7 linked regions of the Homo sapiens genome follow. The protein of the gene in region 1 purifies or fractionates together with the protein of each later gene. This does not show direct contact. Each region holds a gene or a part of one and is shown in the gene's direction. Other genes may lie near its edges.

Region 1 (4,031 bases):
TGTGTGTGGTTTTGTTCTGAGTGAGAGGCGAAGGCTTTGGAGGGTTTAAGCCGGACATGTTTGTAAAGCCCCAAAAGGTCTGTGATGGGTCAAAAGGAAGTGAGCCTGGGGGTTCTTCAAAGAGGTAAACAGAGTTACCATGTGGCCCACAGGTCCACTCCTAGGTGTGTGCCCAAGAGAACTTGAACAGGTGTTCAAACAAAACATGTACATGTGAGGCAGGAGGATCGCATGAGCCCCAGAGGTCGAGGCTGCAGTGAGCTGTAATCGTGCCACTTCACTCCAGCCCGGGAGACAGAGCAAGACCCTATCTTAAAAAAAAACCCACATGGACATGAACGTCCATAGCAGCACTACTCACAGCCACCAGAAGGTGGAAACAGCCTACATGGCCATCAGCTGACAAATGGATAAGCAAAACGTGGTCCGTCCGCAAGATGGAATACTACTCAGCCATAAAAACAAACAAACGCCTGGCACAGTAGCTCTTGCCTGTAATCTTAGCACTTTGGGAGGCTGAGGTAGGAGGATTGCTTGAGCCTAGGAATTCAAGATCAGCCTGGGCAACATAGTGAGACCCTGTCTCAAAAAAAAAAAAGAAAAGAAGAAAGAAAGAAATGTACAGACAAGGTAACTCCATTGGGATAGAAATCAGATGAGTGTTGGCAGGAGCTGGAGGAAGGGAGAAGTGGGGAGTGGCTGCTCATGGGTACAGGGCTTCCATGTGGGATGATGGAAAAGTTCTGGAACTAGACAGTGGCAACAGTGCACAGCCTTGTGAGTATACTAAAAAGCACTGGTGGCCGGGTGCGGTGGCTCAGGCCTATAATCCCAGCACTTTGGGAGGCCGAGGCGGGCGGATCACCTGAGGTCAGAAGTTCGAGACCAGCCTCAACATGGAGAAACCCCGTCTCTACTAAAAATACAGAAGTAGCTGGGCATGGTGGTGCATGCCTGTAATGCCAGCTACTCGGGAGGCTGAGGCAGGCAGAATTGCTTGAACCTGGGAGGCAGAGGTTGCGGTGAGCCGAGATCATGCCATTGCACTCCAGCCTGGGCAACGAGAGCAAAACTCCGTCTCAAAAAAAAAAAAAAAAAAAAGAAAAGAAAAAAAAGAGCACTGATGATACACTTTAAGATGTAAAATGGGCCGGGCGTAGTGGTTCACACCTGTAATCCCAGCACTTTGGGAGGCCGAGGCAGGCGGATTACCTGAGGTCAGGAGTTCGAGACCAGCCTGGCCAACATGGTGAAACCCTATCTCTACTAAAAAAAAATTACAAAAATTAGCTGGGTGTGGTGGCACACGCCTGTAATCCCAGCTACTACTTGAGAGGCTGAGGCAGCAGAATTGCTTGAGTCTGGGAGGCAGAGGTTGCAGTGAGCTTAGATCGCACCACTGCATTCCAGCCTGGCCGACAGAGCAAGACTTTGTCTCAAAAAAAAAAAAAAAAGTAAGATGGTTAAAACAGTAAATTTTATGTTCTCTGTATTTTATCATATTTTAAAAATCAAAAAACAAAAGGCAGTTGAGGTTAGGCATGGAGGTTCGTGCCTGTAATCCCAGCACTTTGGGAAGCCGAAGCACGTGGATCACCTGAGGTCAGGAGTTCGAGACCAGCCTGCCCAATATGGTAAAACCCTGTCTCTACTAAAAATACAAAAAATTAGCCAGGCATGGTGGTGGGCACCTGTAATCCCAGCTACTTGGGAGACTGAGGCAGGAGAATCACTTAAACCCGGGAGGCGGGCTGGGCGCGGTGGCTCATGCCTGTAATCCCAGCACTTTGGGAGGCCGAGACAGGCGGATCATGAGGTCAGGAGATCGAGATCATCCTGGCTAACATGGTGAAACCCCATCTCTACTAAAAATACAAAAAAAATTAGCCAGGCCTGGTGGCGGGCACCTGTAGTCCCAGCTACTTGGGAGGCTGAGGCAGGAGAATGGCGTGAACCTGGGAGGCGGAGCTTGCAGTGAGCCAAGATCGCGCCACTGCACTCCAGCCTGGGCGACAAGAGTGAGACTCCATCTTAAAGAAAAAAAACAAACCCGGGAGGCGGAAATTGCAGTCAGCCGAGATCTCGCCATTGCACTCAAGTATGGGTGACAGAGCAAGACTCCATGTCAAAAAAAAAGGCAGTTGACAGGAGCAAGGAGCCTGGTGAGGAAGCTGTGGCATTTGACCCGGCTGTGTTGCTATGGGCCAGGGTGGTGCTAGTAGAGGAGCTGAGTGGGAAAGAGCACAGGGGACATGCTGAAGGCCTGGGTGTGGGGATGAGGCAGAGATTGGGGGCACCTTGCAGGGTCATAGCAGGTGGCTGTGGTGAGATGGAGGAAGACACCTGGGGTACTGCTCTAGGCTGTCAGACATACAGAAGCTGGCCCAGCCAAGCCCAGGGGCTGCAAGGGACATCCTTTTGTGTCCCCAGTGATCTGCAGCTCTCAGACACCCTCAAGCACAGTGCCTCTTGCCCAGCCCAGCACTCTCAGTGGGGAGCCAGGTGGGAGAACAGGCTCGGAAGGGGACCTAGGCTTATGCAGCGAGCCGGGCAAAGCTGGAACTGGAGCCCAGGCCCCTGGATGCCCCCTGGCTTGTGGAGTTCTGGGATACTGAGGGGAGGGGACAGGGCATGGGAGTGCGGTGCTCTCACCTTTGACTTGAACTCATTCCCCAGGGGACAGGGGAGGCCTCCTCAGGATCCACAGATGCCCAGTCTCCCAAGAGGGGCCTGGTCCCCATGGAGGAAAACTCCATCTACTCCTCCTGGCAGGAAGGTAAGTTGGAGGACGTGCAAGGGCAGCCTCAGCCCCCCACACCCAGGGCTGGGTCTTTTTGGGACTGACGGAGCTGTCCTGGCCACCTGCCACAGTGGGCGAGTTTCCCGTGGTGGTGCAGAGGACTGAGGCCGCCACCCGCTGCCAGCTGAAGGGGCCGGCCCTGCTGGTGCTGGGCCCAGACGCCATCCAGCTGAGGGAGGCCAAGGGCACCCAGGCCCTCTACAGCTGGCCCTACCACTTCCTGCGCAAGTTCGGCTCCGACAAGGTGAGGTGCAGGGGTGGGAAAGGGTGAGGGGCTGACACCCTGGACCCTCCTGCTAATCCCCACCCGTGTGCCCTGTGCCCAGGGCGTGTTCTCCTTTGAGGCCGGCCGTCGCTGCCACTCGGGTGAGGGCCTCTTTGCCTTCAGCACCCCCTGTGCCCCTGACCTGTGCAGGGCTGTGGCCGGGGCCATCGCCCGCCAGCGGGAGCGGCTGCCAGAGCTGACCAGGCCCCAGCCCTGCCCCCTGCCACGGGCCACCTCTCTGCCCTCCCTGGACACCCCCGGAGAGCTTCGGGAGATGCCACCAGGACCTGAGCCACCCACGTCCAGGAAAATGCACCTGGCCGAGCCCGGACCCCAGAGCCTGCCGCTACTGCTAGGCCCGGAGCCCAACGATCTGGCGTCCGGGCTCTACGCTTCAGTGTGCAAGCGTGCCAGTGGGCCCCCAGGCAATGAGCACCTCTATGAGAACCTGTGTGTGCTGGAGGCCAGCCCCACGCTGCACGGTGGGGAACCTGAGCCGCACGAGGGCCCCGGCAGCCGCAGCCCCACAACCAGTCCCATCTACCACAACGGCCAGGACTTGAGCTGGCCCGGCCCGGCCAACGACAGTACCCTGGAGGCCCAGTACCGGCGGCTGCTGGAGCTGGATCAGGTGGAGGGCACAGGCCGCCCTGACCCTCAGGCAGGTTTCAAGGCCAAGCTGGTGACCCTGCTGAGTCGTGAGCGGAGGAAGGGCCCAGCCCCTTGTGACCGGCCCTGAACGCCCAGCAGAGTGGTGGCCAGAGGGGAGAGGTGCTCCCCCTGGGACAGGAGGGTGGGCTGGTGGGCAAACATTGGGCCCATGCAGACACACGCCTGTGTCCACCCTGGCCTGCAGGAACAAGGCAGGCCGCCTGTGGAGGACCTCAGCCCTGCCCTGCCCTCCTCATGAATAGTGTGCAGACTCACAGATAATAAAGCTCAGAGCAGCTCCCGGCAGGGGCACTC
Region 2 (3,534 bases), on another chromosome or scaffold:
AGATAAAATATTTTTAGTTAAGATTAATAGCTTATTGCAAATTATGTATACACATGTAAAAATAATTGTGTATCATAAATCAGTGCTGTTTAAATGATGGAATTTTAAAATGTAGAATTGATCACCTGCCACCTCTGATTTTTCATACAGCATAGAGAGAGTTCATCTTCATCTGGCCATTCACTCTACTTTATGTCTCACTCAGTGGTTCTTTTTGCGTTTTTGTTTGAGACAAGTTTCACTTTGTCTCCCAGGCTGGAGAGCAGTGGCATCATTATAGCTCACTGCATTGTCAAACTCTTGAGTTCAAGCACCCAGCTAATTTTTATTTTATTTTTAGTAGAGATGGAATCTTGCTGTGTTGCCCAGGCTGGTCTTGAACTCCTGCCCTCTAGCAGTCCTCCAGCCTCAGTGGTTCTTAACATACAGATCATAATGTCCTTTGACAATATGAAGAAGGATATGATTCCCTTCAGAAAAATGCCTAGTGCTCTGCTCCAGCATTTTATATAATAATTGACCTGGCTTTTTAAAATTGCACAGTGTAAATTAGTGTTTCTTGAATGAAATTCGTAAGGGTTTCTTTCATCCATTTACTAAGCTTTTATTTATAGAGGTCAGGGAACAAAGGTTATCTGATAACATCCTTACTTCCTAGATAAGGCTGAAAACCTAAGATAATTTAGTAACTTTGCACAAAGTCGCTCATAAGCATGAAAATTGAACTTAGCACATCTACTAATATGAAACCAAACCAGGCTAATCAGAGTGTTGGGTATTTACTGCAAATACCCGCCAAGTCAGTCGATCCTGCTTATCTGGGAATTTACCTACTGTTTCCATTCCTTTCACTGATGACATTTCTTTTTTCTTGAGATGGCGTCTCGCTTTGTCACCCAGGCTGGAGTGGAGTGGCGTGATCTTGGCTCACTGCAACCTCCGCCTCCCGGGTTCAAGCAGTTCTCCTGCCTCAGCCTCCCAAGTAGCTGGGATTATAGGCATGTGCCAACACGCCCAGCTACTTTTTGTATTTTTAGTAGCGATGGGGTTTCATCATGTTGGCCAGGCTCGAACTCTTGACCTCAAGCCCACCTCTGCCTCCCTGCCAAAAGGGGTGGGATTATAGACATGAGCTACTATGCCCAGTCCACTGATGGATGACATTTCTAATAAGTGGCAAATAGTATCATTCTGCTTATTGTGGAAGGGTAGTAACAAACCATCCTATTAAATGGATGTGTTATATTTATTTTGCGTTCTCTTCCCTCAACAGATGGAGCAGCATATTGTATGGGACGTATGAATTCTGACTGTTGGTATGTTTAATGCAATTTTGTGGATTTTTGTTGTCCTATGTAAGATTTAAACTGCCAATTGTCATTTTTAGGAACTATTTTTAATTTTTATTTAGGTACTTATATACTCTGGATTTCCCAGAGAGTCGGGTAATCAGTCAGCCAGATCAAACCTTGGAAATTCTGATGAGTGAGCTTGACCCAGCAGTTATGGACCAGTTCTACATGAAAGATGGTGTTACTGCAAAGGATGTCACTCGTGTAAGCATTTTTAGTAATAATTGTTGCTGGACTCTTCTGCGTGGGGACTAAATTTTATTTTTCATTCTGTAACTTTTAAGTTCAGGGTAACAAGTGCTAGTTTGTTACATAGGTAAACTTGTGTCATGGGGGTTTGTCGTACACAGTATTTCGTCACCCAGGTGTTAAGCCTAGTACCCATTAGTTATTTTTCCTGGTCCTCTCCCTTCTCCCACCCTGGGACTAAATTTTGGACTCAATTGAAGTTTATTTGTCAAACCCTTGTTAAACTCGGTCTTTTTCCCCCCCCAGGAGAGTGGAATTCGTGACCTGATACCAGGTTCTGTCATTGATGCCACAATGTTCAATCCTTGTGGGTATTCGATGAATGGAATGAAATCGGATGTGAGTAGTTATATATTGCTTCAATAATTATTTAAATGTGAATAGTCTTTCCATTCTTAACACTGTGAACTTTTTCTCTCAGGGAACTTATTGGACTATTCACATCACTCCAGAACCAGAATTTTCTTATGTTAGCTTTGAAACAAACTTAAGTCAGACCTCCTATGATGACCTGATCAGGAAAGTTGTAGAAGTCTTCAAGCCAGGAAAATTTGTGACCACCTTGTTTGTTAATCAGGTAATTTTATATTTTATTATTAATCAGGTTATTTGATTTTTAAAATCTTAAAGGAAATGAGACAGTGAGGCCTAAGATGTATTCTGAGATAGCACATATACCAGCCACTCAGATATCCAGAAGTAATATTGTTTGAGGTTACTGGTAGCTGAGAAGCTTTGTTTCATTAGACCTGTGTCAGTCCTTGTTTTCTGTCTAGCCAAACTGATGGGTTCCTCCTGTCTTGCTATTGACAGGCCTCTGGTGGGAGGAACCATAAGATGCCCTGGCCCCTCCAGCACATAAGAAGGCAGCTAAAATAACTCAGATGTCTTAGTTTCATTAAGATAAAAGTCTGTCACTTAACTGTTTTGGTTGAAAATACTTCTCTGGATTGCAAACACTAACGGTTATTTAATTTTTTCCCCCAGAGTTCTAAATGTCGCACAGTGCTTGCTTCGCCCCAGAAGATTGAAGGTTTTAAGCGTCTTGATTGCCAGAGTGCTATGTTCAATGATTACAATTTTGTTTTTACCAGTTTTGCTAAGAAGCAGCAACAACAGCAGAGTTGATTAAGAAAAATGAAGAAAAAACGCAAAAAGAGAACACATGTAGAAGGTGGTGGATGCTTTCTAGATGTCGATGCTGGGGGCAGTGCTTTCCATAACCACCACTGTGTAGTTGCAGAAAGCCCTAGATGTAATGATAGTGTAATCATTTTGAATTGTATGCATTATTATATCAAGGAGTTAGATATCTTGCATGAATGCTCTCTTCTGTGTTTAGGTATTCTCTGCCACTCTTGCTGTGAAATTGAAGTGCATGTAGAAAAAACCTTTTACTATATGAAACTTTACAACACTTGTGAAAGCAACTCAATTTGGTTTATGCACAGTGTAATATTTCTCCAAGTATCATCCAAAATTCCCCACAGACAAGGCTTTCGTCCTCATTAGGTGTTGGCCTCAGCCTAACCCTCTAGGACTGTTCTATTAAATTGCTGCCAGAATTTTACATCCAGTTACCTCCACTTTCTAGAACATATTCTTTACTAATGTTATTGAAACCAATTTCTACTTCATACTGATGTTTTTGGAAACAGCAATTAAAGTTTTTCTTCCATGAGTTGAGTCCTTAAGAAAATGATTCCAGTTACTCATTTTGCATATTTGCTATTTTAACATTATTGGACCCTGCATTTATAGTCCTTTGATTTCTTCCCTCTCCCTGGTGTCTCCCCCAAGACCCCAAATAAAGCAATACACTGTTAACACTGTGGGTTTATATACTAATTCTATACCCCAGATGGGGAATGGGGGAGATGGTCCCTGGGCTTAATATTCTTTAAAGGGCATGGGAATTTAGCCTCTCTTTTAT
Region 3 (4,820 bases), on another chromosome or scaffold:
CATTAAGCAGGTTTCTTCGCTGCAGGACTTATCAGAGCTTTTATGGGCCCAAGAGCACTGTGGTTCTCCATGAGGAAATCTGTATGCCAAACTCAGTTATTCATGGAACACCAATTAATGTCTTATGAGGCCACTTGTTTTCCAAGGAACAGTGTTTTGGGGAAAGATGCAATAAAATATGTATTCATTTGTTCAAAGATATTTCCTGATGGCCTATTATGGGTTAGGCACTCTCCTAGGTGATGGGAGAGCAAAGATGTCTTTTCCAGGGACTTCACAGTAGGAAAAACAGATATGCAACTAGCTGTAGCCAGAGCCAGAATGTGACAATGCCAGGGCAGGGAAGGATCAGGGAAGCCAGCCCCTGGCAGGATTCAAGGGTCAAATGGCTGGGACGGTGAGGTACCCAGGCCCACTAGAAGCCTAGGGCAATGGAGCGCAAGTTCAAAGTGTCATCTGAAAGAGTTCTGGGCCCCATCTGGGCTCAGGAGAAAGTGAAGAACTGGACGTGGGAGAGGAAGGCCAAGCGCTGGGTGGATTTTAGAACAGAGCAGGAGAGGAAGAGAATACAACTGAGAGGACAGGAGGAGATCCCGGACTGCTGTCACCCACGAGGCTGGGACCCCCAGGATGGGACACCCCATTCCGCAGGGTCCACTGCCTGCTGTGTGGATAAGGTCACCTGGCCCAAAGGCACTGTCAGAGCAGGTCCTTGGGGATCCCTGTGCAGGCTGGTGAAGGATGGTTTGCTTTGATGTGAGTTTAAGTTGAGGCAGAGGAGGGCCTGAGATGGGAGAGTGGCCGGTCCTAGATGCCAGGATGACAGGCCACAGGGGGCCACTGCAAGCTCTGCCGGGCACTGGTGCATCAGAGTGGCATGTGCAGAATTGTGGTGGGCATTGTGGTAAAGGATGAGGACGCGGCAGGGGCATCGGTGAGGAGGCCGTTGTGCACATTCAGCTGAGCAACAGCTAGGGCCGAATCAGGGAAAAAACAGTGAAAATGAAAGAAAGGGGGAAATCAGGATATATTGCGAGACCTGATTGCCATTGATAAAAACTGGAAAATCACAAGGCGGAGCTGGCTTGAAGGGGAAAAAAATAGAACTTGTTTTCAGACTTACTGATTGTGTGACATCAGTGGAAGAACCCAGAGAAAATACCCAGAAGGCAGCTGAAAATAGCGATGCGTCGCTTAACAACGGGGATATGTTCCGAGAAGCGTGTCATTAGGTGACTTCGTCATTGTGGGAACCTCATGAAGTGTGTATACACAAAGCCCACTTCAGTTAGATGGTGTGGCCTATTGATCCTAGGCTACAAACCCGTATAGCATGTTACTTTACTGAATACTGTGGGCAACTGTAACACAATAAGTTTTTGTGTATCTAAACATTAAAAAGGTACAGTAAAAATATGGTATAAAAAGAAAAAAATGGGCTGGGGGCAGCGGCTCATGCCTATAATCCCAGCACTTTGGGAGGCCGAGGTGGGTGGATCACTTGAGGTTAGGAGTTCAAGGCCAGCCTGGCCAACACGGTGAAACCTTGTCTCTACTAAAAATACAAAAATTAGCCATGCATGGCGGTACACGCCTGTAACCCCAGCTACTCGGGAGGCTGAGGCAAGAGAATCGCTTGAACCCGGGAGATGGAAGTTGCAGTGAGCCGAGATCGCGCCATTGCATGCCAGCCTGGGTGACAGAGCAAGACTGTGTCTCAAAAAAAAAAAAAAAAAAAGAAGGTGGTACACCTGTATAGGGCACTTACCATGAATGAAGCTTGCAGGCTTGGAAGTTGCTCTGGGTGAGTCAGTGAGTGAGTGGTGAATGAGTGCGAAGGCCTAGGACATTACTATGCACTGCTGTAGACCTTACAAACACTGTACACTTAGGCTACCCTACATTTATTTTTTAAATTTTCTTTTTCCAATAATAAACTAACCTTAGCTTACTGTAATTTTTTATTTATAAGCTTTTTATTTATAAACAATTTAATTTTTGACGCTTTTGTAATAAAATGTAGCTTAAAATACAAACACATTGTACAGCTGTACAGAAATATTTTATTTCTTTATATTCTTAATCTATAAGCTTTTTTTCAAGTTTTAAAATTTCAAAACTCTCATTTACATTGACTTTTTTGTTGAAAATTAAGACGTAGGCTGGGCACCGTGGCTTATGCCTGTAATCCCAGCATTTTGGGAGACCGAGGTGGGTGAGTCACCTGAGGTCAAGAGGTCGAGACCAGCCTGGCCAACATGGCAAAACTCTTGTCTCTACTAAAAATACAAAAATTAGCTAGGCGTAGTGGTGTGCACCTGTAATCCCAGCTACTTGGGAGACTGAGACAGGAGAATCGCTTGAAACCTGGAAGCAGAGGTTGCAGCGAACCGAGATGGCGCCACTGCACTCCTGCCTGGAGCAAGGCTCCGTCTCAAAAAAAAAAACAAAAACAAAAACCATAAATGCACACATTAGCCTAGGCTGAAACAGGCTCAGGATGGTCAATGACATTATCACCCACCTCCACATCTCATCCCATGGAAGGTCCTCGGGGCAATAACATGGAGCTGTCGTCTCCTATGATGACAATGTCTTCTTCTGGTTACCTCCTGAAGGACCTGCCTGAGGCTATTTTATAGTTAACATTTTCTTATAAGTAGGAATACACTCTAATGATAAATAATATCGTAAACACGGAAATGAGTGACAGTTGTTTATCATTATCAAATATTATGTACTGAACAGAATTGTACTGTTATGCTTTTACACAGCTGGCAGTGCAGTGGGCTGGTTTGCACCAGCATCCCCAGAAGCATGTGAGTAATGTGTTGCGCTGTGACGTGATGACAGCTACAGCAGCACTACGTGATGGGGATTTTCCAGCTCCATTATAATTTTGTAGGACCTCTGTCCTATATGCAGTCCATTACTGTGGTACATGACTATTTGTGGAGCCCCACGGGTAATTCTCAGAGGCAGCTGATGCCGAGAACTGCAATGTTAAGAAGTAACTGTTTAGGCTGGGCACAGTGGCTCATGCCTGTATTCCCAACACTTTGGGAGCTGAGGCAGGTAAATCATTTGAGGCCAGGAGTTTGAGACCAGCCTGGCCAACATGGCGAAACCCCATCTCTACTGAAAATACAAAAATTAGCCAGGTGTGGTGGCGCACTCCTGTGATCCCAGCTACTCAGAAGGCTGAGTCAGGAGAATTGTTTGAATCCGGCAGACAGAGGTTGCAGTGAGCTGAGATTGCCCCACTGCACTCCAGCCTGGGCAACAGAGTGAGACCCTGTCTCAAAAAAAAAAAAAAAAAAAGGACTTAACTAACTGTTAGGCAGAATCAATGAAAACTAAAAATGCACCTATTCTATGATTCAGTAATTCCGCTTTGGTGTGTGTTCAAGAGAAATTTGTATATTTGTTCACCAAAAATAGGTATAAGAATGTTTAGCCGGGCATGGTGGCTCACGCCTATAATCCCAGAGCTTTGGGAGGCCAAAGCAGGTGAATCACCTGAAGTCAGGAGTTCCAGACCAGTCTGGCCAACACCGCGAAACCCGTCTCTATACAAAATTAGCCGGGCATGCTGATGGGCGCCTGTAATCCCAGCTACTCGGGAGGCTGAGGCAGGAGAATCACTGGAACCTGGGAGGTGGAGATGGTGGTGAGCCGAGACCATGCCACTGCACTCCAACCTCAGCAACAGGGCGAGACTCCATCTCAAAAAAAAAAAAAAAAAAAAAAATGAATGTTTATGGCAGCCTTGTTTGTAATCTTCAAAACTGAAAACAACCCTATGTCCATTAACAGTAGAGTAGATAAATGTGATACTTATAAACAATGGAACTTTTATAAGCAACGAAGTGGCTGAAGGAGTCCAACATAAAAGAGTATCTACTGAGTGAGTCCATTTATATACGTTCATATAAATTAATCAATGGAGATGTTAGTCACACTAATGCTCACCTTTAGGAGGCTCTGGTATTGACAAGGAAGGCTTATGAGGGAAGCTTTAGGATGATGGCGGTTTTCTGTATCTTGCTCTGGGTAGTGGGTAAGTGGGTTTATACAAACCTAAAAATGCATGGGACTGTACACTTATGGTTAGTACACTTTATGTAAGTTGTACCTAAAGTTTTTTTTAAAAAGTGAATGGTTCAGAAGTAGAGAGAATGAAAATAAAAACTTTTGTTTTTTTTTTTTTGAGATGGAGTTTTGCTCTTATTGCCCAGGCTGGAGTGCAGTGGCGCAATCTCAGCACACCACAACCTCCACCTTCTGGGTTCAAGCGATTCTCCTGCCTCAGCCTCCTGAGTAGCTGGGATTACAGGCATGCGCCACCATGCCCGGGTAATTTTGTATTTTTAGCAGAGATGGGGTTTCGCCATGTTGGTCAGGGTGGTCTCGAACTCCCGACCTCAGGTGATCCACCCGCCTTGGCCTCCCAAAGTGCTGGGATTACAGGCATGAGCCACCATGCCCAGCCTGAAAATAGAACATTCTTGAAAGAAAATTGGTAAAAGGAAGAAAAGAGAAAAGTAATTGAAGGAGATGACAGAGATAAGCTCTTTCAGGATGAGTTCCTTTATGTTTGTAGACAGAGAAGAAAGAGCTAGAACATGAGGGGATAAGGATATTGATAAAAGAGGGTTGTTATTGCCAGTTTACCTTGTCTATCCCACCTAATGGACATCTTGCTCATCATTGCAGCCTGAGGCCCTGGAGAGGGCTTGTCATATAGTATTAATAGATACTGTTTGAGTGATTGGATAAGTAGGTAGACGGGTGTGTGAACGGTCAATGGATGAGTGGAT
Region 4 (3,595 bases), on another chromosome or scaffold:
ATGTTAACAAAGGTGGTGTGAACATGTCGTGATTAGATATCCTATGTAACCTTAAACTATAAAGGTAATACTTATGTAAGAACTAATTTAAATGTTTTGTATGAGTTAAATGTTTGAATAACATTATTTAACTTTATTCGGGGAGAGGATATGTTTACAGTTTTTACACTGAATATTCTGTAATTTACCATGCAATTGAATTACTAATGAAATGTTAAAAGAGCATATCATACCTCTGCCTCAGTTCTCTTCTAAGTAAGCTTTTTATGTAGTCACGCAATTAAGACTGTCAAGACATATTTGAATTTCATTTTGAATGGTGCCAGTGGCCCTGTGCTCCTGGTTGATACAGCATTTATACCCAGTTTGTCTTACTAGCTAATTTAAACTCTGAGCACATCCCTGTCACCTTCACAACTATAAATGAAATATCTTGCCATATATGTAGAAAGTAAAAGGTATGTGTTTCTTAACTTCTCCCTAAACTTCAGCTTGGCAGTAGTTTATAATTTGATGCTTTTGATGCTTTTTTTCTCTGGGTTTTAGTTTCTATATTTTTCCAAATGCCATTTTGAAAAGTTGCATTATAGATAGATATAAGTAAACAGGTGGGCACAGTGGTGCACACCTGTAGTCCCAGCTACTCAGGAGGCTGAGGCAGGAGGATCACTTGAGCCCAAAAGTGTGCGTACAGCCTGGGAAATATAGGGAGACCCTGTCTCTTAAAAAATAAATAAATAAATAAATGTATGTCTGTCTAATTTGGATTTTTAACTGTTATTTGACCTATTTTTTTAGGGACCATGCAGAGTGCCCTGTGTCGGCATGCACGTGTAAATGTATGCAGTTGGATACAACAGGGAATCTGGTACCTGCAGAGACTGTCCAGCCATAAAATGTTACCACCTTAAGAGAACCCTTCAAGTGTGGAGCTTTCTAGTAGGTGTCCTTCATAGCTCAGAAACATACCTCAGAACAAGCCATTCATGACTTACCTGTAATGGGAAAATAAATCATTCTATCAGATCAGCAGTTTTGATGTTTGAGTGATTTTGATATGCTTCACAGAGACAAATGCTGCCAAAATAAACATCGAAGTATAGACATGAGTTCTGTTCAGCAGGTTGAAAAGTCTGATTTAGAAAAACTTTCTAAGTTTTGGTTGAAATTATGAACACTCTAGAAGCAGAATTTCTGGAAGAGCCAAGAACAGACTTTGAGCCTATATCTTCAAAGCTGAAACTGGATATCTTTCAATAAAATATGTGCACTTTTAAAATAAAATGACTAATTCTGTGATTCAGACAATAGTTTTAAGTTCAGCTGTGCTTAGATTTCTTTCAGATTAATTTAAAATTACAGATTTTTACTTTTAGAATTGCAGAGCCCCTATCCCACACTGGAGAATATTTTTTATTACTGTCTGTTATATATGTGTCTATGTGTGTGTGTATATTTATGTGTGTATGTATAAATATGTATTTTTTAAAGGAGCCTTTTCCCTCCTTTGATTTTAAGATAAGCAATCTTTTGGCATAACATTATCGTCTTCCTAGAAAAGCCAAGATGAAGAATCTATCTTACAACTTTTTCTCTTCAGTAGAGAAAAACATGTACCATTTCAGGTGAACATACAAAATTTTCACTTTCTACCTTTTGCCTTCCAATGTCCTGATTTGTCTTCAAAGGTTTTTCTCCATATTAATTTGTCATCTTATCCTCATCACCTGAGAACATTTTACTGCATACAAAGTCTATGCAAGATTATATGTAACTAGCCATTTAGTATAATCTATGTCAGTGTTTCTGTGCTGTCAAATTCCGTCCTGATTTGGAATACCATACCTTGTTCTTTCCAAGGTAGACTAGGAAGTGTTGGGGAAATGGGGTCACTTCAGAGACCATTTTAGATGTAAGTTTTTAAATGTAAGTGTTACTGGGGCTAAGTCAGGTACTTTATTTAAAACATTTTTTTTTCTCATTTCATAGCTAGATAGTTGTAAGAGAAATACAAAGAATTTACAAGATGCTTCTCTGTCATCTGCCATATGCAGAGGGACTGAACTAGGAATTTTGTAGTTGAAGCTGTGTTCATAAAGAGTAAATCTTATTTTATAGATTTTGGAGAAATAAAACAAGAATTTTAAGAGCTTTCGTATTAGCAGTTTTGCCTTATAAAAACTAAGATTTGTCAGATTAGTTTGAGGTGTAACCTAAATATTAAAAGTAGATTAAATTTATTTTTTACCTTGAGTGTCTGATACATAAAACCCTTTTCTAGGAAAACATTGGAAGTAGTACATATTTACTCTAAATGTCTCACCTGCATGACAGTCTTTTCAAATGAAAGACATGGTAATTGCAATTTTTTTTTAAAGATTGCTATTAAGGGTACTTTTTCCAGCCTTCATTTGAGTAAATCTTAATTGATTTCATTTTATTAACATATACCCTTTACCTTTAATATTTCATTTGAAGTGTTCCTTTCAAACTTACTGTCTTAAATATGAAAGTCAGCTTTAAGTAATGTCAGACTCATATGCATTTTCATTCTCATTAGCTAAAGTAAAATGTAAAATTATCTCAAATAGTTACAAGTTTTGGAAATACAGTATAAAACATGAATGTAAAGTCTATTATGTAATATGCTTATTTGTAATCCTAATATATGAGGGTGACATTTTTAAGATTGTATGTATGTGTCAACCTCTTAAATGTTTTCTGTGAAGCCCAAACATGCAGTTTATGTCTCTGGTGTCTGTTTTGCATTTCAGTGTGCATGGACAATCAAATTATTTTCTCATTTTTATCACTAAGTCACTGGTATTTGGGTTTATAAACTCAACAAGATACTTTACCTAAACATGATCAATAGATGTGTTTATTAAAAGTGTTTTTATTATTTTTAAAAGATTGAATAAATCTGGGTTGAAGTCATTGTATCTAATCAAGAAATTATGATTCCTTTACAAATAATCCACGTGAAGTAATATTGGTGCTTTTTTTGATGACAGACTTCATACTTAATATTAGAAGTAACATTCCTTTTAGGCTCTGTTTTTCAATTCAACCCACTTTCCAGAATAGTTATTATCCTTTAAAATGGTATATTTTAAAAGTAGCTTCCCATTGTCAATGCTTCACATAGTAAGTATTTAAAAGAATGTAGTTCTTCATTTAATTAGATGACTCAATTTCAGTCATTCATTTGACTGCAAGTAGTTAAAGCATGGTCTTTGAAACATAAATTATAATCCTAGCCTCGGGATCTTCGGTAAGTGACTTGACCTTTTTGAGCTTCAGTTTCTTCATATGTTAAAAGAAAGATACAGAAATACCTACCTCAGAGTGTGGGAGTATTAGGTGATGCAATAAACATGAAGTGCCATATCCCTGTCACATGGTGCTCTATAAATGGTAGTGATTAGCAGTCATTGTTACCTTCATTTTCATAGATTGCTCATGTATCAGTACTTTTTCAATGAATACTTATAGTATAATTTTAATTATAGTTAAAATTATAAGTATAATGAATACTTATAATTTTAACGAATCTACATTTGTCTCAAGAATGAAAATTTCCTTGGTGTGAGTT
Region 5 (4,820 bases), on another chromosome or scaffold:
GCTGCAATGTACATTTGCATGCATGTGTCCTTATGGCGGAATGATTTATATTGCTCTGGGTATATGCCCAGTAACGGGATTGCTGGGTTGAATGGTAGTTTTGCTTTTAGCTCAAAGATAGAATATTACTAATATATACTCTCTTGAACTAGGAGATTTAAGTCTTTAATTCTATATCTAACTCAGTCTAGTAAACACTAGATATTAAAAATGTATAGGGCCCTAGACTGTGCTTTTGGGATACATACATGAATTGGGATACTCTAGTCAGACAAATAAAGAATGGTGTAATAAGTGCTATCATTTCTATAAAGAAATAAATACAAATTGATGTAAGAGCATAGAGGAGTGAGTGATCGATTATGTCCAGGAGGTTTGGAGATCAGATTAATATGTGAACTCAGTGTCTCAATGGACACGTAGTATTTTGCCAGGCAAAGAAGTAGAAGTTCCAGCACCTAGAAATAATAAATACTTGAGGTGATGGATACTTAAATACTCTGACATGATTATTACACTTGCCCTATATGTAAGATGTCTCACATGTACCCCATAACATTATACAAATATGTATCAATAAAAAAAAGAAAAAGAAATACGGAACTGTCAGTCAAAAGGAACAGTGTGATCAAAGTCTGTGGTATATTCAGGAACAGCAAGGGTTAGGTAGGGGTGGGGCAGGTGGGATAGGGGAGAGCAGAAGATGTTAGAAAAGTATAACAAAGAATTCTTGGTGGGTAGCTCAAAAGTTGTCTTATATGACCACTGAAGGATTATCTGTAAGCTATAAGATCCTATTACCCACCATGTCTGGATATTGAATTGTCACCATCTCTGCAGTTGTAAAGAAGAATTATTGCTTTATCATTTTAATTATTTTATTTTTATTTGCATTTTACTCTTGCTAATTCCTCATCATTTTGCTCCATGGCAGTCTGTGTCTGTGTGGAGTGTTGCAGGACGAGTGGAAATGACTGTTTCCAAGTTCATGGCAATTCAGAAGGCCCTTCAGCCAGACTGGTTCCAGTGCCTCTCCGATGGAGAAGTATCTTGTAAGGAAGCAACTTCCATAAAAAGGGTCAGAAAGTCTGTTGACCGATCACTTCTTTTCTTGGATAACTGTCTGCGGCTGCAGGAAGAGTCAGAGGTAAGGCTGTGCCACTAACCACTCCTTTCTCTTGACACTCTTGCCTCCCTTACATTCTGTGATACCACCTTTTCTGTTCTTCCTCCTACTGCTGTGCTCCTCACTTCTTTGTCTATTTTACTCTCTATTTTTATTTTCTTTTTGAACCTTAAGTATTATTGTTCTCTAGGTTTCTATCTTAGGTTTCTCTTTTCATCCCTTTCTATATGTTGTCCCTGGGCAGCCTTCCCTTAGTTTTAATTGCTGAATAATTCTTAAATTGTATATACTATCAAGATTATTCTACTTAGCTTCAGAATTATGTAATTACTGGGCTATAGGTAGGTTATGTCACTAGAATATCCCTCAAACTCAGAAGTGACCGGATTCATCATTTTATCTCCACAAACCTGTTCTTGCTTTTGCTCTTCCTCAATACTTTATCTCCATTTATGGCATCCACCAAGCTCCTCAGCCCAGAAATTTGAGCTTTTCTTTTTCTTTTTTGAGTCTCACTCTTGCCCAGGCTGGAGTGCAGTGGTGCTATCTCAGCTCGCTGTAACCTCTGCCTCCCAGGTTCAAGGGATTCTGCAGCCTCAGCCTCCCGTATAGCTGATATTACAGGCATGCACCATCACACCCGGCTAATTTTTGTATTTTTAGTAGAGACCGGGTTTCACCATGTTAGCCAGGCTGGTCTTGAACTTTTGACCTTAGATGATCTGCCCGCCTCTGCCTCCCAAAGTGCTGGGATTACAGGCTTGAGCCACTGTGCCTGGCTAAGAAATTTGAGCTTTTCAAGACTCCTTTTTTTCATTCACATTTAATATCCCACTGTTCACTCTTCCTTGATTCCATTTGCCTAAATATGTCTAGAATCTTCCCCTCCTTATTGCCACCTTAAGCCGTAACTGCATCATCTCTTACGTATGTAATTACCTTTGAATTCTTCTCTCTGCCTCCATTCTCATTTTTATCCAATCCATCTTTCAGCCCTGTTATCCAAAAGATCTTTGTAAAGCACAAACAAGAGCTCCTTGCCCACTTCCCTAAAAGAATTTAATGACTCTCCACTTCAACTCTTACATGGCATGGACAGCCTGCTGTGATGTGGCCTCTACCTACTCCTCCAGCTCACTGTGGGCTACTTTTTCCTGTGACTTGCACTCTGACCTTTCTGAGTTGCTTGGAATTCCTTGAGGCATTAGCTTGTTTCATTCTGTACACGGATTTCCTTCTGGACTGTTTCTTGTTTCTGCTTTTCTTATCTCTAGCTATATTCCCTCTTTTGTTTCCACATGAGGCTCATTTCATTCCATGTATCATTCATTTTTTTTTTCTTTTCTTTTGAGACAGTCTCACTCTATTGCTCAGCCTATCAGGCTAGAGTGCAGTGGGGCAGTCTTGGCTCACTGCAACCTCCAACTCCAGGTTCAAGCAATTCTCCTGCCTCAGCCTCCAAGTAGCTGGGATTACAGGCATGCGCCACCGTGCCTGGCTAATTTTTGTATTTTTAGCTGAGACGAGGTTTCACGATGTTGGTCAGACTGGTCTTGAACTCCTGATCTCAGGTGATCCACCCACCTTGGCCTCCCGAAGTGCCATGTGTCATTCTGTAGAACTGGTTCCTGATAGTTCCAGGGAATTCAATTCATTCTTTGCTACCCCTTTAATTAGTATGTAGCTATATTTTAGCCCCAATCATATTGTATTTCAATGATTTCTTTATGCATTTGTCTTCATTAAACTGTGGCCTCTTTAAGCTCAATTTCTGTGTATAAGTTGGGTATCTTCATCATGCAGCAGAATGCCTTCCCTGTCTTATTCACTGGTTCCTCTTATTCTGAATGCCCTTCAATATTGAAGCTCTCCAAGATTCGGTTGTTGGCTTTCTTTTCTTCTCCATATATTACCTGGGTTAGGGATGGCGAATGGGTTTCATCTGACATATTGTAAGCCCTCAGTAAATGTTTGCTGATGGTGAATGGTTATGATGGGGTGAAGATGAAGCTGTAGTGGTAAATCAGGGATACTGATAGCAGAGTTAATTAAGTGGGAAAAGGATTCAGAGAACAGTAGAGATGAGGGAACAGAAGATAGTGATCAGAGGAGAGAATTTTAATATTTGAGATCATGTATGTGGAGTAATCCTGAGCGATGATCACATCCCACTATGGCAAGCGCATTGAGTTTGAGGAACATCATTATATTGAATTTAGCAATAAAAATATAATTTGGCTAATAAAGTTAATATAAATGAAATAATTAGAGGAAACATAGTTATTCTGAATAGAATTCACAGTATATGTAACAAGAGTTTGGTGTGGGGACATTGCTGTGTGTCTGGGCAGTTAGTGTTGGTGGCTTGCTAGTAATTGTTTTGAGCCAGTCATTATCCTTGTAGGACTAGTAATGTTTGGGTAAGTAGAAAGCAGGACAGCGAGTGTGACAAAGATGATTATTAGAAAGGTCAGATGAGCCTCAAGTCCCTCATCTGTGTTGTTGCAGTCAGCCTCATCATTTCATATTACTTCTGCATATTTGTGGGGGTTTTTTTGTTTTGTTTTGTTTGTTTTTTTGAGATGGAGTTTTGTTCTTGTCGCCCAGGCTGGAGTGCAGCGGTGCGATCTCAGCTCACTGCAACCTCTGCCTCCCAGGTTCAAGCGATTCTCCTGTGTCAGCTTCCTCAGTAGCTAAGACTACAGGCACACGCCACCACACCCGGCTAATTTCTGTATTTTTTGGTAGAGATGGGGTTTCACTGTGTTGGCCAGGCTGGTCTTGAACCCCTGACCTTTTCATTCGCCTGCCTCAGCCTCCCCGAATGCTGGGATTATAGATGTGAGTCACCGCGCCCGGCCTTACTTATGCATATTTATTGGTCAAACGTGTAGTCCCTCTCCATACCCTTTATTATTGTCTTGACATGATTATTAATAGTGCCCCCCCATTCTTCCATTTTAGATAATAAATTATATGATCGTGCTTCTTACACCCAGGAAAGGGAGTTTCCCGAATAGTCATGCTAGTCGTATAAGCAGGCAGGCCTATGTAACTCTCTGCTTTGTGTTTCTGCATACATCTTTTCCCATGATTCCCTCCCTGTCTTATTGACTGGCTCCTCTTATTCTGAATGCCCTTCAATATTGAAGCTCTCCAAGATTCGGTTTTTGGCTTTCTTTTCTTCTCCATATATTACCTGGGTTAGGGATGGCGAATGGTTTCAACCGAGGTGGTCGGGTGCAGCAAGAAGAGAGTCATCTGTTAGTCACATCTGCTGTGGAATCAGGAGTAGAGAGTGGTAGCATCATGCCAAGTGTCTGCCATTCTAGCCTGGGCAATCATGTTTGTATCACACATAGCCTTATCTTTAGGTTCATTTAGGTTCAGTGGCTGAATTAAGATTGCCATTTGGACATCCTGCTGATTCCTCAAATTCAGAACACACAGAACAGAGTAATCATCTTGCTTCATCCACTGTTTTTCTAGGAGTCCCTGCCTTTTGCTCTTATCACCATCTACCTGTACTTGCAAAACAGGAGCCAGGAGTCATTTGAGACTTTGTCTTTATCCTCTCCTTGGACAACTAATCAGTCAAGTTATGTTGATCCTACTTCCTGATAGGTTTCAAGTTTTATCTTTCCTCTTCATCCACACTGCCACTGCCTTAGTCCGGATCATCTCATCTTTCACC
Region 6 (4,820 bases), on another chromosome or scaffold:
GAGGGATTTGTTATCTTTTGTTCTGACTACCATTGTGTCATTTGACTTATAGTTGGCATCTTTTACTTTAGAGATTTGAAAGGAAAATCCAAAAAAGTTAGAACAAACCAAACTAAGAAAATGAGGTGGTCAAGATTAAGTAGTAAGAATGAGAATGGAGAAAGTGTTTTCTAAGGCCTTACATTCCTCACTATTCCCTGATAGAATAAATTGAATGATTTTATTTAGGAAGAAAACCTTTTCACCAAAATATCTCCTTAATAGTACAGGTCTGTAATCACTATTGTGAAATCCAAAAGGCTCTGAAATATTATAAGTTTGTGAAAAACTCATTTGGTGGCAAAACCTGACTTATGCCAATACTTTTTTTTATTCTTTGCCTGCTTCCTATAAATATTTATGTTTTGCTGCAGAATTGCTATTTTTATTAGTGCTGCCTCAGAACCTGCTGAGAGTGTTGCATGGTATATCCTGTATATACCGTATCATATTACTGTCGTGAAATCTAAACATTTCTGAATTCTGAAACATTTGGCTTTCCAAAGGTTTTACGTAAGGGATTGTAGACCTGTGCTGAAAATTCTACTAGTTGAGATAAATTGGATTTTACAAATTAATATAGGGAGTGTATACATAGCTATGTCTCAGTTAGTATTTTTCTTTCTTCTGATTGATTTGCCCATTTTGTTTTAAAATTTGATTTTTATGTTCACGTTATACCAATTTGTAATCTACTTTTGATTTTACTATAGCTGTGTGACTTTGGACAACTTACCTAACCTAACAGACTTTTAATAATTTCCCTTTTTTTTTTTTTTTTTTTTTTGAGATGGAGTCTCACTCTGTTGCCCAGGCTGGAGTGCAGTGGCTCAAACTCGGCTCACTGCAGCCTCTGCCTCCCAGGTTCAAGCGATTCTCCTGCCTCAGCCTCCCAAGTAGCTGGGACTACAGGGGCGTGCCACCATGCCCAGCTAATCTTTGTATTTTTAGTAGAGACGGAGTTTCACTATGTTGGCCAGGCTGGTCTCGAACTCCTGACCTCGTGATCCACCCGCCTCGGCCTCCCAAAGTGCTGGGATGACAGGCGTGAGCCACCGCGCCCAGCCTTAATTTCCTTTTCAGTAAGAGGTAGGATGATATGGTGTAGTGTTCAAGATTTCCTGGGTTCAAATCCAAGCTTTGCACTTAACTAGCTGTATGTCCTTGGCCTCTTTGTGCCTCAGTTTCCTTATCTTGAAGATGGGGATAATAATGATTGTACCTATCAAATGCGGTTGTTATGAAAACCAAATGAGTAAGTTTACCTAAAGTATTTAAAATAATGCCTGACATATGGGGAGGCCTTGTCAATATAAAAGTTGTGCTAGTATCATCTGTGAACTCTACCAGGGCAGGGATTCTGCTATTCTTATATTCTTACCTTTTATCCTGGTGCCTTACAAATGAGGGGGGCTCAGTAAATACTCATTGGATTGAATTATATTTCCTAAAATCCTTAATGTGCCGTCATAAAAGAGAGACAGTTATTACTATTTGGACTCCAAGTATGCTAAAATTTTTCTGTGGTAAATTAAATCTTTCTGATAATTGACTTAATATTTCCCCCCCCCCCTTTTTTTTTCCCAGAGTCAAACAGACGTATTACTGGAGGGGCAATGCAACTCTCTTTTACACAGCTAACTATAGATTATTATCCTTATCATAAAGCAGGTGTGTATAACAGCATCTTTAAAAGATATAAATGTTGTTTTCAAATTATATAGCTAATTTATTTAGTTTAGTTTTATCTTGCTTTTATTTGTTAACAAGAAATGAGATGAAGAGATTGGTATTTTTCTCCTGGCAGTATTTCATTAAGAAAGTAGAATTGCCATGGAATATAGTCATACAGTGTATATTGACATTTATATAGATTTTTAGAAATCATAATTTTTAGAAATTGACAGTTTTCCAAATAACCAATTTAAAACTTAAAAAAAAATCAGGGTACAGAGGACATGTGTTTGTGCTGTTTTGTTAGTTGTGACCAAAACAAGTTATTAATGTTTTAAATTTTTAAATGATTTATATATTTAAAAATTAGAAAAGAGTATGAAGCTAGGAATGAAAAGAGTATGAAGCTAAGAATAAGAGTATGTTTAGCTAAATTATAGGATTCCAGATTTCATAGGCTCTTAACAATCTGGTATTGGTAGATTCTTTCTCCCAAATAATGAAAAGAAAAAAAAAGTATGATTATTGTGACCAAATTAATTTGACTTTATACCGTTTTTGCCTTCTGTTAGTATTTAGCATTCACACAAGTGAGAAAAACCAAACTAGAGATCATAGAGTTTTCCAGGACATTTAAAAAATGGTAAAGTTTTTCTGTTCACACATTTTTGTTTACACGTTTTTTAACCAATGTTTGTCATTTCTATGTTGGTACCTGATTAAATTTAAAAGTTGTATGATTTTTTTTTCATTTTAAATTTTCATTGCCAACATTCAATATAATAATTCTCTTTTGAAGGATTTTGTCTTATATACTATCGTCCTGACTCATAAATTAACTTACAAATGCATAAAATTTTTAACTAGATATTTATTTTTGAAGAGGTGTGAAACATTCATAGAGTAAATTTTCTTTTTTTTTTTTGATCCAAGGCCTCACGAGTGCAGTGGTGTGATCACTGCTCACTACAGCCTCGACCTTCTGCCTCAGCCTCCCAAAGTGCTGGGATTGATTACAGATGTGAGCCACTGCGCCTGGCCTGATTTTATTGTCTTAACCCTTTTATGTGCATTTTTCTTAGTTGCTACAGAGAAGCCTAATGATTCTGATTATATATTTTTCTTCCAAAAACTAACTATGGCTGAGTACATCTTGAGAAGTTTTATTGGTTTCTTAAATGTTTTAATCATCATCATCTTATCATTTTTGTGGTTTAGGTTTTTGTTAGTTAACTTGATAACACATCTTTGAAGAAAGGATTCTATTTATTTGATAATATTTTCTGGGATTCAGTTTAATGCAGGTTTACCAGGTAATTGAGCATCCAGTGAAGGGTGACGAGTCATATGGCTTTAAATTGAATCTTAGTGATTTTCTACTAAGAATGGGTACTAGATAGAAACTCCTCCAGATGATTTGCTTTTGACATTCTTTCCCTCTGTTTCAAATGTTTTACTCATATTTCGAAATTACATGTAGGTGAAGCCTGTAAATTTTTCAGATATCAAAGTCTTTCTTGAATAAACGACTAAATCTCATTGGAAGCATTACTATAATATAATAAATGAAAGTTGTACATTTTTCAATGAAATACCTGTTGTTCATTTTACAGGAGATAGTTGTAATCATTGGATGTATTTTAGTGATGCAACCAAAACAAAAAATGGATGGGCCAATGAGTTATTGCATGAATTTGAGTGCAACGTTGAAATGCTTAAACAGGCTGTGAAGGATCATAATGTAGGTTCACCTCCTAAATCCCCAACACATGCCTCTCCCCAGCACACACAAACAGGTATTTTACCTATAATAGCATTCCCCTAATATTAAGAGTGTTTGCACTCTGTGTGTGTGTGTGTGTGTGTGTGTGTGTGTGTGTGTGTGTGTGTGTGATCATAGTATTTCCTGTAAATGAGTATTTTTTTTTCTTCTTTTTAATGTAGAGATGGGGGTCTTGCTATGTTGCCTAGGGTAGTCTCAAACTCCTGGCCTCAAGCGGTCCTCCCACCTTGGCCCTCCGCAAAGTGCTGGGATTACAAGTGTCAGCTACCATGCCCAGCCAAGTATTTTTTTTTTTTCTTTGAGACAGGGTCTCACTCTGTCTCCCAGGCTGAAGTGCAGTGGTGTGATCTCGGCTCACTGCAACCTCTGCTTCCCGGGTTCAAGCGATTCTCCTGCCTCAGCCTCCTGAGTATCTGGGATTACAGGCACATGCCACCATACCCAGCTAATTTTTGGAGTTTTAGTAGAACCAGGGTTTCACTGTGTTGGCCAGGGTGGTCTCAAACTCTGGACCTCAAGTGATCTGCCCACCTCAGCCTCCCAAAGTGCTGGGATTACAGGCGTGAGCCACCACGCCCGGCCTAAGCCAAGTATTTTTAATTAATGTCTAAAACCCCTGTATCCTTTGCTCAGACCAACATAGGCTTGTGGACCAAAGCACTTTTAAAATTAATACAACCAATAATAGTCACACCCAGGAAGAATTTTTCTAGAAGGTTTCTTTTTTTTTTAAGTCAACACATAATAATTGTACGTATTTATGAGGTACAGTGTGATACTACTACTTTTTTTTTTTTTGCTGGCCCAGTAAGCATTGAAATGTGATATTTTGATACATGTATACAAACGTATAACACTAAAAGCAGAGTAATTAGCATATTCGTCACCTCAGACATTTATTAGTTAAGTTGGGAGCATTCAAAATCTGCTCTTACTAGCTATTTGAAAAAATAAATTATTAATTATAGTCACCCTATAAATGCTAGAATTTACTTCTCCTATCTAGCTATACCTTTGTATTCACTAATCACCCATTGTCTGCCCCTCCCCTTCCCTCCCCCATACCCTTCACTTTCTACTTCTATGTAAATATGTCATTTTTAACAAGAGTCCCATTCCAGAGTTTTTGTAGAAGACTAACTTAAATGTGACATGTGTGATTCTTCTTAAAAGAATAATCATCACAATAACTTACATCCTGTATTACTTTATAATTTATAAAGTATGTCCACAAATATTATCTTGTTTGAGAAGTTAGTATTCACATATATTTCTGGTACCTGCCTTAATAATAAAAGAGTGACTGTTAAAAATAATTTTGCAA
Region 7 (4,820 bases), on another chromosome or scaffold:
ATATATCAAAAGGACTGGCTGCAGCACTTTACGAGACCTGAGAAGAGGCTATAGTTACCGTAGCGACTGGTGTAGTAGTTCCTTGCATGTCCCACTTTCTTACCTGGATAACTGAAGTCGCCTTCTAACCTGTCCCTCTCTTTGCACTTTACTCCCTTAAAATCCATTTCTACTCGCAGATAAACTGATATTTTAATTTCAATTTTGTTATGTTAAATATTAGATTTTAAAATAACCTATTTGTTATCAATGCCCAATTATATACCCTCACATAATTAAATTCCTCCATACTCAGGCATATATGAACATATATACCAGAGTAACGTTTTTGTTGGGGGGTGGGGTTGTTTGTTTGGTTTTGGTGGCTTTTTGGTTGTTTGTTTTCTGAGACAGGGTATTACTCTGTCGCCCAGGCTGGAGTGCAGTGGTGCAATCTCAGCTCACTGCAACCTCTGCCTCCCAGGTTCAAGTACTTCTCCTGCCCCAGCCTCCCAGGTAGCTGGGATTACAGGCGTGTTCCACCACGCCTGGCTTTTTTTTTTTTTTTTTTTTTCCCTGAGGCTGAGTCTTGCTCTGTTGCCCAGGCTTGAGTACAGTGGCACGATATCAGCTCACTGCAACCTCTGCCTCCCGGGTTCAAGTGATTCTCCTGCCTCAGCCTCCCAAGTAGCTGGAATTACAAGCGTGCGCCACCAAGCCTGGCTAATTTTTGTATTTTTAGTAGAGACGGGATTTCACCATGTTAGCCAGGCTGGTCTAGAACTCCTGACCTCGAGTGATCTACCCGCCTTGGCCTCCCAAAGTGCTGGGATTACAGGCATGAGCCACCACACCTGGCCTGAATCATATTACTTATTTTCTTGAAACCCTCCAGTGGTTTACTGTTTCAGTTGGAAAAAATCATAACTCCATCCTATGTTTCACGAGGCCTATGGTCTGGTCCCTACCTTCCTTCTTCATTTCCTGACCCTCCTCCTTGGTTCAGCCATGTTGTACCTTATTCGTGCCAAACTTATTCTTTCAGGTCTTTGTATTTACTGTTCCTTGTGCCAGGACTTTGTGCCCCTGCCCATTTTATTGTCTTTTAATTTCATTTTTTATTTTTTATTTTTAAATTTTTTCCAAATCCCTGCCCCACTCCCATTTCATTGTCTTTAAATAGCTAGTGCTTTCTTGTTATTGAGGTCACAGTCCTTGGTGAGCCCCTCCCCAGTGGCTCAGTCTTTGTTAGCCATTCACCCAAAGTTGACAGCAAACAGTTATCCTGTTTTACTTCAGTCATAGCATTTATGTATTTATTTGTATAAATTTAAGGGGTACAAGTGCAGTTTTGTTACATGGATATATTGCCTGGTTGTGAAGTCTGGGCTTTTTTTTTTTTTTTTTTTTCGAGATGGAGTTTTGCTCTTGTTGCCCAGGCTGGAGCGCAATGGCGCTATCTCGGCTCACCGCAGTCTCCGCCTCCCGAGTTGAAGTGATTCTCTGCCTCAGCCTCCCGAGTAGCTGGGATTATAGGCATGCGCCACCATGCCCGGCTAATATTTTCGTATTTTTAGTAGAGACGAGGTTTCTCAATGTTGGTCAGGCTGGTCTAGAACTCCCGACCTCAGGTGATCTGCCTGCCTCGGCCTCCCAAATTGCTGGGGAAGTCTGGGCTTTTAATGTAACCAACCATCACCCAAATAATGCACTTGTACCTGTTAGGTAATTTTTTATTCCTCACCATCCTCCCACCCTTCCCAATCTCCAGTGTCTATTATTCCACACTCCCTGTGTCCATGTGTACACAGTATTTAGCTCCCACTTATAAGTGAGGACATGCAGTATTTCACTTCCTGTTTCTGAGTTGTTATAACATTTATTACTGTTTGAATAAATTTTGTTCATTTATTTATTTATTGTATTTCCTCCCCTAGAATGTAAATTTTAGGAGGGCAAATGAGTATATTCTCAGCATCTAGAACCATGTCTGGTACATAGATGCATAGAGATGCTCAAATATTTGTTGAACGAAAATGAATGAGAGATATATGTTGTCACTGGGGGTAAAGAAGAGGGGAGAGAGATTAAGGAAAGAGGTTTACTGGGACTGGGAGACTGCCAAGGAAGTAGAGCCTATTTTCATTAGAAGCTGCCGCCTCTACTCTTTCTCTTTGGCTTTCATGTTCCTACCCTGGCTGAGGAGTAAGCTATAGTCATTACAGCACCCTTTTCTTTTTCTTTCTTTCTTTTTTTTTTTTTTTTTAAGACAGAGTCTCGTTCTGTCACCCAGGCTGGAGTGCAGTGGCGTGATCTCGGCCCGCCGCAACCTCCGCCCCCTGGGTTCAAGCGATTCTCCTGCCTTAGCCTCCCAGGTAGCTGGGATTACAGGTGTGCGCCACCACACCTGGCTAATTTTTTTATATTTTTCCACTCCTGGCTAATTTTTTTGCATTTTTAGTAGAGACAGGGTTTTACCCTGTCCAGGCTGGTCTCGAACTCCAGACCTCAAGTGATCCTCCTGCCTCAGCCTCCCCAAGTGCTGGGATTACAGGCATGAGCTACCGAGCCTGGCCCAGCACCCTTTTCTTGCTGCTACAAAGACTAGCCTATGAGCCTTTTAGGTTTTCACTGTTTTTACCATTTAACTTCATGAGAGATTCCAAAACTAGCAAAGTTTCAATCATGGAAGTCAGTGGATACTTGGGCGTGGCTGACAGGGAGCAGAAGGGCTGGTGAGTGGTAGAGCCAATGCAGGGGCTGAGGTCTCCCCAAGCCATGCATTGCTCAGTCCATGGCTGTGGGGAGACAATGCCATTTGTAGGAATGGCTAAACACCACCTACATTCTTTGTGGTAAGGCCAACTTGCCACACATCAGGAGGACAGGGGCTGTCTTAAAAGACATCACCTGGCCTGCCACACCTGGGCACCCCCTACCCCCAAGTCCCCACTGCGAGCAGCAGCCCCAGACATGAAGAACAACCCTTGCCCTCTTCTCGCAGGTTGCTATCGGCTGGTGGACTATTTGGAAGGGATCCGGAAGAATTTTGATGAGGCTGCCAAGGTGTTGAAGTTTAACTGTGAAGAGAACCAGCACAGTGATAGCTGCTACAAACTGGGGGCCTACTATGTGACTGGAAAAGGTAAGGAGGGCCTGCCTTTTGGGTCCTTGTCATTGATAGCAGTGCTGGCCTCACACCTGAGCCCCATGATAAGCTCTTGCAGAAGGGTCTCGCAGGCATTGGGAAAGTGCATTGTAGGAAGATGGAGAGGTAGGAGTTCAGCAGAGTGATGGGGGGAAGAACACAGCCTTTCAAGTTAGGTAAACCTTAGGGAATGCTATTGGCAAGTAGTGGGACCTTGAGCCAATCACTTCGACTCTGTGCCTCAGTTACATCACCTGTAAATTGGAGGGAAATAGTACTTGCTTTGTAGGGTGGTGAGGATTAAGTAGGACAGCATAGGAAAAGGCATCAGCATGTGCTTGGCACAGAGTAAGGGGTCAGTAATTATTGTCTTCCTTCTGTCTTTTCTCCTTGTACTCTAATTGTAGTTATCACTGGCATAGTGTTTACATTATCTATGGCTAAATAACAAAATAGTTATTTTTGTTCACCTCAATAGTTTCTGTGGGTCAAGAATTTGGGAGTGGTTTAGTGGGGGTACCTCAGGGTATCTCATGAGGTTATAGTCAAGACATTGGCCAGGGAGCCAGGGCTGGAGACATTGGAAGGCTTGACTGAAGTTGGAGTTTCCAATTCTAAGATGACTCACTCTGATGGCTGGTAGCAGAGGCCTCTAGTTCCTTACCAGCTGTTATTGGGAGAGCTCAGATCGTCATGACATGGTTCGCTCCATGGGCTGCTTGAGTGTCCTCATGACATGGCGTCTGGGTTCCCCCAGAGTGAGTAATTTAAAGGAGACAACAAGATAGAATCCACAGTGTCTTCTATGACCTATCTTTGGAAGTCACACACTTTTCATTTCTATCACATATTTATTAGATGTAGCCTACACTAAGGGGAAGGACTTAAATTCCACTTCTTGAAGAGGAAGGAATATTAAAGAACTTATGGACATATTTAAAACCACCACAGGCCAGGCACGGTGGCTCATGCCTGTAATCCCAGCACTTTGGGAGGCCAAGGCGGGTGGATCATGAGGTCAGGAGTTCAAGACCAGCCTGACCAACATGGTGAAACCCCATCTCTACTAAAAATACAAAAAAAAATTAGCTGGGCGTGGTGGCGCGCACCTGTAATCCCAGCTACTCAGGAGGCTGAGGCAGGAGAATCACTTGAACCCTGGAGGCAGAGGTTGCAGTGAGCTGAGATCGCGCCACTGCACTCCAGCCTGGGCAACAGAGCAAGACTCTGTCTCACAAAAAAAAAAAAAAAAACACACACACACATAAATAAGTAATAGGACCTTTGACAGGCAGCTTTTTTTTTTTTTTGTGACAGGATCTTGTTCTGTTTCTCAGACTGGAGTGCAGTGATAAAATCATAACTCACTGCAGCCTTGAGCTCCTGGGCTCAGGCAATCCTCCTGCCTCAGCCTCCCCAGTGGCTGGAACTATAGGCACGTGCCCCCATGCTTAGCTAATTTTTTATTTTTTGTAGAGACAGGATCTCACTATGTTGTCAGGCTGGTCTCAAACTCCTGGCCTCAAGCAATCCTTGCACCTTGGCCTCTCAAAGTGCTAGGGTAAGGTGTGAGCCACTGCACCTGGCCAAGGATGTCTTTTTTTTTTTGAGACAGGGTCCCGAGACAGGGTCCCACTCTGTCGCCCAGGCTGGTGTGCAGTGGCATGATCTCGGCTCACCACAACCCCCTGGC

Evidence for each region.
Region 2: the proteins of DOK3 (region 1) and AMD1 purify together in Homo sapiens (affinity purification with mass spectrometry; 3 studies listed by BioGRID and IntAct, with this or other methods). This does not show direct contact.
Region 3: the proteins of DOK3 (region 1) and INPP5D purify together in Homo sapiens (co-immunoprecipitation; one study listed by IntAct). This does not show direct contact.
Region 4: the proteins of DOK3 (region 1) and MIOS purify together in Homo sapiens (affinity purification with mass spectrometry; 4 studies listed by BioGRID and IntAct, with this or other methods). This does not show direct contact.
Region 5: the proteins of DOK3 (region 1) and QTRT2 purify together in Homo sapiens (co-immunoprecipitation; 2 studies listed by BioGRID and IntAct, with this or other methods). This does not show direct contact.
Region 6: the proteins of DOK3 (region 1) and BLTP3B purify together in Homo sapiens (affinity purification with mass spectrometry; 3 studies listed by BioGRID and IntAct, with this or other methods). This does not show direct contact.
Region 7: the proteins of DOK3 (region 1) and COA7 purify together in Homo sapiens (co-immunoprecipitation; one large-scale study listed by IntAct). This does not show direct contact.

The regions. Positions count from the first base shown.
Region 1 is NC_000005.10:177,503,756-177,507,786, reverse strand, and holds part of DOK3 (docking protein 3), read left to right. Parts: intron 1-2,676; coding exon 2,677-2,776; intron 2,777-2,871; coding exon 2,872-3,044; intron 3,045-3,126; coding exon 3,127-3,804; 3' UTR 3,805-4,031. UniProt on the Homo sapiens protein: DOK proteins are enzymatically inert adaptor or scaffolding proteins. They provide a docking platform for the assembly of multimolecular signaling complexes. DOK3 is a negative regulator of JNK signaling in B-cells through interaction with INPP5D/SHIP1.
Region 2 is NC_000006.12:110,890,888-110,894,421, forward strand, and holds part of AMD1 (S-adenosylmethionine decarboxylase proenzyme), read left to right. Parts: intron 1-1,273; coding exon 1,274-1,316; intron 1,317-1,411; coding exon 1,412-1,556; intron 1,557-1,847; coding exon 1,848-1,940; intron 1,941-2,022; coding exon 2,023-2,178; intron 2,179-2,588; coding exon 2,589-2,729; 3' UTR 2,730-3,534.
Region 3 is NC_000002.12:233,171,490-233,176,309, forward strand, and holds part of INPP5D (phosphatidylinositol 3,4,5-trisphosphate 5-phosphatase 1), read left to right. Parts: intron 1-4,820. UniProt on the Homo sapiens protein: Phosphatidylinositol (PtdIns) phosphatase that specifically hydrolyzes the 5-phosphate of phosphatidylinositol-3,4,5-trisphosphate (PtdIns(3,4,5)P3) to produce PtdIns(3,4)P2, thereby negatively regulating the PI3K (phosphoinositide 3-kinase) pathways.
Region 4 is NC_000007.14:7,606,198-7,609,792, forward strand, and holds the end of MIOS (GATOR2 complex protein MIOS), read left to right. Parts: intron 1-798; coding exon 799-895; 3' UTR 896-2,735; downstream 2,736-3,595. UniProt on the Homo sapiens protein: As a component of the GATOR2 complex, functions as an activator of the amino acid-sensing branch of the mTORC1 signaling pathway. The GATOR2 complex indirectly activates mTORC1 through the inhibition of the GATOR1 subcomplex.
Region 5 is NC_000003.12:114,069,692-114,074,511, forward strand, and holds part of QTRT2 (queuine tRNA-ribosyltransferase accessory subunit 2), read left to right. Parts: intron 1-934; coding exon 935-1,147; intron 1,148-4,820. UniProt on the Homo sapiens protein: Non-catalytic subunit of the queuine tRNA-ribosyltransferase (TGT) that catalyzes the base-exchange of a guanine (G) residue with queuine (Q) at position 34 (anticodon wobble position) in tRNAs with GU(N) anticodons (tRNA-Asp, -Asn, -His and -Tyr), resulting in the hypermodified nucleoside queuosine (7-(((4,5-cis-dihydroxy-2-cyclopenten-1-yl)amino)methyl)-7-deazaguanosine).
Region 6 is NC_000012.12:100,083,165-100,087,984, reverse strand, and holds part of BLTP3B (bridge-like lipid transfer protein family member 3B), read left to right. Parts: intron 1-1,626; coding exon 1,627-1,710; intron 1,711-3,326; coding exon 3,327-3,509; intron 3,510-4,820. UniProt on the Homo sapiens protein: Tube-forming lipid transport protein which mediates the transfer of lipids between membranes at organelle contact sites. Required for retrograde traffic of vesicle clusters in the early endocytic pathway to the Golgi complex.
Region 7 is NC_000001.11:52,691,031-52,695,850, reverse strand, and holds part of COA7 (cytochrome c oxidase assembly factor 7), read left to right. Parts: intron 1-2,983; coding exon 2,984-3,124; intron 3,125-4,820. UniProt on the Homo sapiens protein: Required for assembly of mitochondrial respiratory chain complex I and complex IV.